Linked DNA regions of Homo sapiens: region 1 is linked to region 2. Evidence: fine-mapped expression QTL. A gene starts in region 2. The other region holds a variant in brackets. All regions are shown on one strand. Distances are from middle to middle.

Region 1 (5,372 bases), 61 kb before region 2:
CCCAGATCACTGGCTGGTCTCTACCATAATTACAATCTTCTGAAGTAAACTCCCTGGAGGAACTGTTAAAGCATAGGTTGCTGGGCTCTACCTCCAGGGGATTCTGATGCTCAAAGAAGTTTGAGAACCACCGATCTAGACGGTCCCTAATCCCTAAGCTGTTCCCTGTTGGAAGATGAGGAAAGAAGTCCCGCTTCCTTCCTCCCAGAGGTTGGGACGTTCTGGAGATGTCTTGCTCTGTAACAGTCTTCATGCAGCAGCAGCAGTGAGCAACAGACACACACCCCCAGCATCCCCTTGGATCCCTAAGCTGCATCAAGCCCGTGATTGCAGAGCCAAAGAATAATAGCTCATTTTCCAAAGACCTAATTACATAATGAGATCTTCATGCTCCTCGGGACTGAGGCGCTCCATCCAAATTGTGCAGCCAGGTGTTGGCCCTGAGTGCACTGGGTTGGGGGCCTCATTTGAATACTATTAAGACAAGAGGTTAACACGCTCCGTGTTAAAAGTGCTGTCTGTAGTGGTGGCCTTTCTAGTTCCCCTTCCTGCTCCATCCAGGTGGCACACAGAAGATAGTAATTATGGTGGAGACCAGCCAGTGAGCCTAGGAATGCAGATTGCACCCACATCATCAGGGAGGGGTGTGCTTGTGTTTCTGGTCCAATGTCCGCCCAGCATGAATGCCTTTCCTCTTGCATAGCCTCAGAATCTGGAGGTGGTTCAGGGGTGGGAAAGCCCTGGGACATAGATCTGAAGCCTGGCCCCACTGCTAACCAACTGGGAGAACTTCCTTGAGCCCCTGAATTTTCTTGAGTTCTATCTGAATAAAATGGAATGATGATCCATGCCTTATAGGGTTGTCCTGAAGCCTTAATAGAAAAGAATTAATTAAAGTACCTGGCCCAGCACTTTCTATAATCAGGCCAGGTGTCACTCAGGGGCCAGCCTCATCACTCACTGCTACCCTACCCCTATCCTTCACACCTGCCTTGGTGAATCAGTGAATGATGTGGAGTTCTCTAACTTTTACACATGCTGTTTCTCTGACTTAAATACTCTTCACGCTTATCCCCTACTCTGGGTTGTCTCCTACTCATTTGTCAGGCCTCATCTTGGAAGTCACTTCCTCCAGGAAGCCTTCCCTGACCACTACCCCTAGCTCCAGGTCTAGGTTCGTTTACCCTTCTCTGGGATCCCTTTTCCCCTGATCATTCCTACTTCAGTACTGATTATACTGTCTCAATTCCCCTTACACTTTAAGCTCTGAGCAAACAAGAAACTTTGCCTCGTTCACAGCTGTAGCCCCATTGCCTAGCAATTAGTAGGTATGCAAAAAATGTTGAAAGAATGAATGAATAGTAGATAAACAGTAAATGTTGAATGAATAAACAGATCTTACCAGGGCTCAGGCTATGATTAGGATAAAGTCAATCCAATTCAGCAAACATTTATGAAACTTCTACTATTTATCAAGGGTTGTTATGGGAACAGAGGAAACCAAGATAGATAAAATATGCTCCTTACAATCAAATAATTTACAATCTTAAAAGCTGTGCATTTAAGAAATTCAAAAGGGAGGAAGGAGCCTGGGTCTTTAAAGCCCCCGCCCCCATCTAAACACCCCCATGCCAAATCCTGCTCCAGAAAATTTCTCAGGACACTATGCAATGGAAACCTAGGCACTGCTTTACTGTTTTTTGCTCAGATGGGCTTTGACCCCCAGACTGCTTCTCTGAATCTGTTTCTCACATTCTCACATTCCTGTACATGGGCTTCATTGCTTTTTCTTTTTTGAAACGGAGTCTTGTGTTGTCCACGCTGGAGTGCAGTGGCACAATCTTGGCTCACTGCAACCTCTGCCTTTCCTGGGTTCAAGTGATTGTCCTGCCTCAGCTTCCCGAGTAGTTGGGACTACAAGCACATGCCACCACACCCAGCTAATTTTTATAACTTTAGTAGAGTTGGGGTTTCACCATGTTAGCCAGGCTGGTCTCAAACTCCTGATCTCAGGTGATCCACATTGCTTTTTGTTTTATCTGGCACCAATTAGCACTCCGAATATACACATACCCACACTTACACACATGGACACAACACAACTTGCTGTTTCCAACCAAGATTAATAAGCTGCATCTCCTGCCCACAGGCTGCTCCCAGTCTGTTAAGGGCAGCCCATGAATGTCAGCACGCATTCAGCAGATGTGTACTGGGTGCCTGCTCTCTGCTGGACATGGAAATAGGTGCACATGTGTGGGGACAGAGGCAGAGGGGAGAGGGCAATGGTAAATAAAAGGACAC[G/A]AGCTCTGCCTTCAAGTAATCATCCTAGGAGGCTGACAAACTGGGATAAATGCTGAGCATATAAACAGGGGAGCTGCCATAGGAGTGGAAACCAGGAGCAAAAGTGATGTTGAGTTGAGACTGGAAGGATGAGTAGGGGCCCATCAGATCCCTGGGAAAGCTGAAGAAAGAATGTTCCCAGTAGAGGAAGAGCCTGGGCCCAGGCTGGAGTGGGAAGGAACCCAGAGCACATAGAAGGACCACACTGCTGGAAAGCAGAGAGCAAGCAGGAAGCCATGGGGGTAGGGCTGCAGGGAGAGCTGGTGGAATAGACCTGGCTGAGGGTTTAGGCCTCTATCCCAAGAGCAGTGGGAAGTCACTGAAGGATCTTATGTGGGGGATAGCTTGGTCACATTTGCATAGTTATATTTCATGCTGGCTGCAGTGGAGGTGAGAAGACCAGTTAGGAAGCTATTGCTCTGGTCCAGGTGAGAGATGAGGGATCTCCTCCAGGGGGCTCATAGTGGGGATGGAGAGCATGAGGATGAGTGGATTTAAAGACCGTCATGAACCACCATTGGTAGAGATCTTGAGGAGACTCATGTGATATGGTTTGGCTCTGTGTCCCCAGCCAAATGTCATCTTGAATTGTGATAATTCCCACATGTTGTGGGACAGACTCAGTGGGAGGTAATTGAATCATGGAGGCAGGTCTTTTCCATGATGTTCTCATGATAGTGAATAAGTCTCACCAAATCTGAAGGTTTTATAAAGATGAGTTCCCCTGCATATGCCCTCTTGCCCGCACCATGTAAGACATGCCTTTGCTCCTCTTTTGCCTTCCAACATGAATGTGAGGCCTCCCCAGCCATGTGGAACTGTGAGTCCATTAAACCTATTTCCTTTATAAATTACCCAGTCTTAGGTATGTCTTTATTCACAGCAAGAGAATGGGCTAATACTCTAAGATACACATGGCAAGTATAGCCTTGATGGAGACCCTGTGCTTGGTCAGAGCAGCCCTGAAGAACATGTATTTAAAGATGAATTAATTGACTGAATCACTCTATTATAACACCCAAAGAACTGAGGATCATAAAAATGGTTCCAAGACCTATGGGACTCCTAGGAAGAAGAGGTCACTCCTGGATCCAGAATAGGAAGAGGAAAAAGTGACATTTGGCTGGGCCTTAAAGAATAAATAAGGTAAGGTTAGGCATGGTGGCTCACGCTTGTAATTCCAAAATTTGGGAGTCTGAGGTAGGAGGATCACTTGAGCCCAGGAGTTTGAGACCAGTCCTGGCAACATAGTGAAACCCTGTTTCTACAAAATTAAAAATATATATATTAGCCAGGTGCAGTGGCATATACCTGTAGTTTCAGCTACTCAGGAGGCTGAGGTGGAAGAATTGCTTGAACCCAGATCAAGGGTGCAGTGAGCAGTGATTGCACCACTGCACTCCAGCCTGGGTGACAGAGCAAGACCCTGTCTCAAAAACAAACAAAAAAGAATAGATAGAGACTTATGGGCATGAGACAGGTAGAGGTCGAGGGTCAAAAGTTCCCACCACGGCAATGGGCATGTTCAGTGCATGATTATGGAAGGGTGAATGTCTAAGTAAAATGCACTTTAAGGGAAACAGCTAACAGTTTGGTGGATCTGGAATGGAAAGAGTCTTAAAAATGCCAAATTAATGAGATTGAATATTATAGATTTAGGGAGCCATTCAATCACAATACAATTATTGAACCTGAATTTTGTGCAAGTATTGTGCTGGGCTCTGGGAATGCAAAGTCAGGACGCTTAAGGAGCTCAGAATCCAGTGGAGAGGCAGATGGGTAAATGTTATTGGTGCATCTCTACTGAAACAGTGCTACAGATATTAGCTCTGGGGTCGGGTATTGTGAAGAGTGAGGCTTGATCTGAACCTTGAAGAATGAGGGAGGGTTCACCCAACAGACCATGGGAAAGAGAAGGTAAGGGGCATGAGAGAAGGCCAGGAAGGGAAAGAGGGAGAGAAACTCTAACAGCCGAAGAGAAACTGCACAGGATGGAGCCTGAGAGGCAGCAGGTGAACGTGAGGACCTGCTGAGTGTTGAGGTGCATGCACCTTGCACACTGAAACTGAAAGCATGAGGGTGGTGTGGAGGCCAGCAAGGAAGGCAGCAGGAGTCAGTCATGGAGAACATCACAGGATTTTCTCCAGTCTTGCAAAGTTGGGAGGGTGGTTTGGACAATCCAGGGTCAAGACTATTGCAAGGTTTTGAGCCACAGAGTTCGATGGATGATAACTGAAATAAAGACAGATAGGGTCAGAAGGGTCTTCTGAGATCATCTTCTCTAAAGCTTCTCATTTTACAAAAGCAGGGAGAGCCATGTTAGTCAGCCCAGGCCTCATCATTAGTAAGAGGTGCAAGCACAAGGTAAGAAGGGCCTCCCATGTAGGGGGTGGCAGCCTTGGGGGGTAATGGGCTGGCTTCAAGTGCATCTCATGGAGGGGGCTCACTGGGCACTTCTGAGATATCTGGACTATTGTGCCTGAGGAGAGAACAGGGCTAGTCACCAAGATGGGTGACCTGGAAGGAGTGGGATGCAGTGTGAGTTCAGTTCTGGGCATGTTGATTTTGAAGTCCCTGCCAGGTATCCAGGTAAAGTCGAGATTCAGATGGAAGAAGTTGGAGATTTTAGCTACAGATAGAGACTGAGGAACCATGCTCAGAGGGGTGGCATTTGTAGCTGTGGGAGTGGAGGTGCTAACCCAGGGAGTAGGAAGCAAAGAGATGAAGACACAAGACAAAACACTCAAGGGGAGGACCATCTAGGAGGCTGAGGAGCAGACATCAGACAGGCGGTGAGTCCTGAGCATGCAGAAGGAAGAAGACAGCTAAAAACCTGAGCTGTCATTAGACTTGCTGCTGCTCACACAGTCTCAGCTGGGGAGTGGCAGGGCCAGAACCAAGAGGTTCCGACTCCCCCATCCTCATCCCCCAGCACTCCATGCCACATCTACATGTCTCTTCCTTCCCTGTTCTGAGTGCAAGGATAAAGAAAACCTTCAGAAAAGCTCTAAAATGCCCAAGAATCATAAACA
Region 2 (5,372 bases):
AAATACCTCCCCCGCAGAGTTGGAGTGAGAAATTAAATAACATTTATTTATGTGCCTAGTTCTGTACCTGGCGTATAGTAGTTGTTCAAGAAATACTAGCTCCTTTTTCCTCTTCCCCGGTAACAGTGTTTCATCAACGTGCTAGGTCACTGTGCTAAGAGGTAGGGATACAAATATGAAGGAGGTGTAGTCCCTGTCTGCAAACGGGTCATAGTCCAGCAGAAAGGCTTGGACACAAACAATGATAAGGGCTATCCTAGAGGTATCAATCTTCCAAGGTATGCTGGGATCATAGGAAAAACATGACCCAAGTTTGTCTGGGAGAATCAAGGAAACCTTGACCTAGGAGGCAATGCATAAGCTGTGATTTGAAGAAAGAACAGAATTTCACTGGGCTGGTCAAAGAACTGGTCAGAGAAGAGGGTGGGAGTATTTCAAGTTGCATAGAGAATGTGCTGCATACATGTGCCATAAAGAGAGCCATCAATCATTGCTTGGAGTCACTAGCTGCCCGTGTGTCTTTCTCTAGATTTCTGTGTCAAGGCCCCTTGAGGCCTAAGCAGGATACCCCTCCTCTCCCTGAAAGAGCTACCATCTGGAGAATTCACAGGAAATCCCATGGCAGAGAAGACAGTTGGTCAATCAAAAGTAGCACATGTACATTTCAAGGGGGAAATAGCTAGGAAAGAGCAAGCCCACAACAGCTGAACACATCAGAAACCCAAAATGTTTTAAAGGCTTTTATAAAATAGAGCTTCATGCCACTCCAGATTTATGATGCTGGAAGATGGCACATGCTTGTCCTGGTTGCTTCATCAGTAACTGCACTGAGGTCACTAGGTCACCCCACCTTGGCCAAGACACGGGTCACTGTGGCATTTCCAGGACCCTTGAGACCAGGCTGGGAGCACTGGAGTATGAGCCTTTGGTAGAGGCCCCAGTACAGCAGGCAGCTTCAGAACCCTCCCCTCAAAGCCAGCAACAGACATCTTCAAGCAACCAAACCCAAAGCAAACTGTCATCAATGCCCAACTGCAATAGCTTTTTCCCCAGATGAGTGAGAAGGGTTTCCAGGTGTGTGTGTGTTGTGTATATGTATGTGTGTTGTGTGTATGTATGTATGCAGTATGCATTGGGTATATATGCATTTAAGTGTATATGTTGGTATACATGTATGTTCATGTATATGTGTGTTGTATGTGTAGTGTGTGTGTGTGTTTGTGTATATGTGTGCTTGTACATGTGTGACTGTGTGGATGTATGTATGTGGGTGAGTGGGAAATGAGGGGCTCAGAGGTCCTCTTCTCCAGAGACCAGATGCAGGGAGTCATCACGCTGTAAGGGTGCCCTCAGGTCAGTGGGGAGGGAAAGCCCATCCCAGCACTGCTTCTCTCCTGCTTGGAAACCCACAGCTCATTCAACAGATCTGGCCAAATTGCCCCTAATTCATCATTACAAAGACGGTAAAACTCCTCTCCACACCCAAATCTCTGCTTCCCCAAGCCTCCTCTCCCCAAAGGATACACACGTTGGTCCTTCTTCCACTGGAGCATCCTCCCACCCTTGGAGTCCCTTCACACTGCCTCCACCACCAAATTCTACTCTCCGGATAATGTCTGGAAAACCCCTTTATCTCATGGAGTAATGGGGCTCCAAGTGTTCCCTGTCCCAGCAAGGGGAATGGGAAAGATGGAGTCTCCTGTCCCTGGAAGTCCTACTCCCCCTTCCCACCCTCTTGGAGAGCTGTGCTTGGCAGACTGGGCCAGGGCTGAGCAGTAGGCACTTCCAGGGAAGGGGCTGGGACACACATGGGATGTCCCTAAGAGGCTGAGGGGAGGATTGTCGCACTGAGCCTACCCTGCTCGCAATGCCTCAACACACATACTCATTACATACAACACATGCACATACACACACACACAAAACACACCAACCACACACCACATCTAGAAACCCTGATATCCATCCACACATCAACACATGCATTTCAAACCCAGGACTCACTAAGTGCACACATACACACACGGAACATACACGTCACCATAGACACTACATCCTGCATGCACCACACTCTAATGGCCACAGCACGCCACCCGCAGACATGCTCACATTCAAGAGTTTCACAGAAATGCCCATTCACACATACACAATGCACATCCTACGCACACCCAATACTTGGCACCACACTCGCAATCGTGTTCAAATGCCCACACTACACAGCAACTCGCTCTCTCTACAGCCCATCTCACACCCTCAGGAGTCCTCTCACCCCTGTCTACACTGGGGCCACATCAGCACAATGGTTATACTACTTATCTCTCCCACAAGCCCATACACCTGAGCACATCTGTACAGCGCATCCCCATCCCGCTCCCCACCACACCCCACCCCCGCACCCGGCCGACTCCAGCAAGAGGCTTCCCGCTCGGTGTGCAGCGGCCACAGTGGCCAGGAATTAAAATGCAGCGAGGAGGAGCCGGGCGCGTCAGCACCGCGTCTCCAGGAGCGCACGGCGCTCACGGCCGCCGCCGCCCCGCCCGCCCGGAGCCGCGGGGCCAGCGAGCTGAGGAGCAGGTGCTCGGAGCCCAGCCGCGCCAGCGTCGCGCGGCCGCTGCCCAAGTTCGCCTGGGGCCCAAAGAGGGTTCTCCCGGGCAACCGGGGAAGGAGCTTAGCCGGCGTCACGGCCACCGCGAGCTCGGAGTCTCGAGAGGAGAAGGGCGCGCGGAGCAGCGAGTCCGGGTCACCCCCGGGAGGTGTTGGCGGGTCCCCGCAGTCCCCAGCTCTTGTCGCCGCGGGGGCAGAGAGAAGACGCGAGAGACAGCAAGGCTGGGCTTTTCTGGAGACGCGAGGCACCTGGGAGAGCCGAGGCGAGAAGCGACACTTCCCTGCGGCTAGCATCCTTGAAGGACCCCGGCGGCGAACAGCCTCCCGCAGGACGCCCTGAGAAGCTCTCAGCCCCAGGCGAGAGCGGGCGCCTGGCAGGACTTAGGCGCAGGACTTGGGGAAGCCTAAGCAGGTCTCTGCCGAGCGCAGCCCAGGGAGCAGTAACAAGGAAGGGTCCTGGAGGGGAAGGGAAAGAAGGCGGCAGCCGGCAAGGCGACCACTCACCCCCGTACACACCCACCCCGCCCGCCCAGCCAGGAGCCGCGGTGCGCCTCTGGGGGCGCTCGTTCCTTGGCGCCTTCTCTCCCGTGTCCCAGCACCGCTGGGCTACGGGCCGGGCTGGTGGGGTCCCTGGGGATGTCCAGATCAGGCATGGTGGCCGAGTGGCCCTTCTCCCAGGACCAGCGTAAAAGCTGGGGTTAGGCGGGGCAGGGGGGACTCGGCTCAGGGTCCCCCGAGGTCCAGGACGAGGGAAGGCGGGCGCAGCACCCAGGGACTGGAGAGGCGGCTCCCAGTGGGACCCCTCCAGAAGTAGTGCCGGGCGCCGGGCATCCTCCAGGAAGACCAGGGGCCGGGAAAGCCTGGGAGGCGCTCGGGAGAGGCCACTGCCAGGGGCTGCGGGCTGAGGCGGCGCTCAGCCCCGGGCGGGCGCCCGCGGAGGCGGCAGCGGCGGCGCCGGGCGGGCATGCCGCGCCACCGGAGCTCCTTTCGGGCGCACGCTTCCCTGGCGCGGGCTGCGCGCGGCTGCCGCTGCTGCTGCTTCCACTGCTGCTGCGGACTCCCATGGCGGCTCCGCCCGGCCGGGGCCGCCGCCGCTGCCGCCAGCCGCGGGCTGAATGAATGAGCCGGATTGGCGGAGCCGGGCTGCCCGCAGCCGCGCTCACCGGCCCGGGACGCTTCCGCATGGCCCGCGAGGAGCCGGCGCCCGCGGCGTTGGCGGCTGCCGGGCAGCCCGGGGGCGGCAGAGGCGGCGAGCGGGCGCTGCAGGGGCCAGGGGTCGCCCGCAGGGGGCGGCCATCGCTGAGCCGCGCTAAACTGCACGGGCTGCGGCACATGTGTGCCGGGCGCACGGCGGCTGGGGGCTCCTTCCAGCGGCGGGCGCTGTGGGTGCTGGCCTTCTGTACATCCTTCGGCTTGCTGCTGTCCTGGTCCTCGAACCGCTTGCTCTACTGGCTCAGCTTCCCGTCACACACGCGGGTGCACCGCGAGTGGAGCCGCCAGTTACCCTTCCCCGCCGTCACTGTGTGCAACAACAACCCGCTGCGCTTCCCGCGCCTCTCCAAGGGGGACCTCTACTATGCCGGCCACTGGCTCGGGCTGCTGCTGCCCAACCGCACCGCGCGCCCGCTTGTCAGCGAGCTGCTGCGGGGCGACGAGCCGCGCCGCCAGTGGTTCCGCAAGCTGGCGGACTTCCGCCTCTTCCTGCCTCCGCGCCACTTCGAGGGAATCAGCGCCGCCTTCATGGACCGCCTGGGCCACCAGCTGGAGGACATGCTGCTCTCCTGCAAGTACCGCGGCGAGCTCTGCGGGCCGCACAACTTCTCCTCCGTGAGTTGCCCTCCGCGCGAACCCGCTCCCTCTGCGCCCCACTCCCCGGCAGTCAGGAGGCCTGGTGTTCCGCCCCCTCGGGGCTGTCCCCAGGCCTCTTGCAGTGTTACCACTCCACGATGCCAAGGCAGAACCCATTCTTGGGTCCCCTGAGTCTTCTCCTGCAGGTTGTGGGAACTTGGACTTAACTGTAGGAGGAGTCGCCTCCCACCAGTGGGAGCTCCCCTGTCCCAGCCCCTCCTTCCAGTGTCAGCCCCCAAAGCCCTCATTCTACTCCTTATGGTCCCGTCTGTGAATATTAGTCAGCCTCCTTCTTCCCGACCTCAACTCCAGGCCCTCAGGACTCCAAGAAACTGCTCTGTGTTTGGAGTGTAGATCTCTTAAGTGCGGACTTCTTGTCTTTGGGAAAACCAATAGACGGCTCTTAAAAAAAAAAAAAAAAAAAAGGAAGCGCTTGAAAAATGGATCATCAGGGGAATCACGCAGAGTCCCTAAGCAGGCCTACGATCCGAAGCAGCTTATGTCTTCAAAGTTCCCAAACACTTAGAATCTAGGAGAACTTGTGAGGAAACTCCCAGAAAACCAACACTGAAGCTGTAGACAGTTTGGTGGGAGAGGCAGCAGCATGCTTTGGCTACTTTTTCAAAATGCAGGAGTCTTGAGCATCCAGCGGAACTGAGCAGTGGTGCGCCAGGGTTGGGCCCTTCACCTGGCCTCCGTCCCCCATAAAATGTAAGTGTGGGTCTTCTGGTCTGGAGGATTGCTCCGGAGTTGAGAAAGCATCCTAGCAGGCATGTGGATGCAAACAGCCGCGGCCAGGAGAAGCTGTGCTTAGGGTTTGTAAACCATTTGCTGTGCCGGTTCCCCCACGCTGTGGGTCTGGATAACGCAGCTGTTGGACAGAAGGTATCTGCCTTGTGCAGTCTGCCTTGGAGGAGTTC

Direction of the effects. Alleles are on the strand shown, and positions count from the first base shown. SD is a standard deviation of normalised expression in the study named.
As copies of G replace A in region 1, the expression in tibial nerve of the gene that starts at base 2,544 in region 2 goes up (moderate effect, 0.61 SD a copy in GTEx).

What was found. PIP is the estimated chance that this variant, and not a neighbour inherited with it, causes the effect.
Region 1: its variant is fine-mapped to the expression of ASIC2 in tibial nerve (GTEx, PIP above 0.99).

Annotation. Positions count from the first base shown.
Region 1 is chr17:33,351,756-33,357,127 of GRCh38, reverse strand. It overlaps a transcript of ASIC2 not described here. Among named protein-coding and RNA genes, the nearest start is that of ASIC2, 61 kb to the right of the region's middle. The variant G/A (reference allele first, on the strand shown) is at 2,302.
Region 2 is chr17:33,290,467-33,295,838 of GRCh38, reverse strand. It overlaps ASIC2 (acid sensing ion channel subunit 2), which reads left to right and starts at 2,544. Exons shown (of 10, transcript NM_183377.2): 1 at 2,544-4,431. The coding sequence starts at 3,724. RefSeq lists a silencer at 3,347-3,517.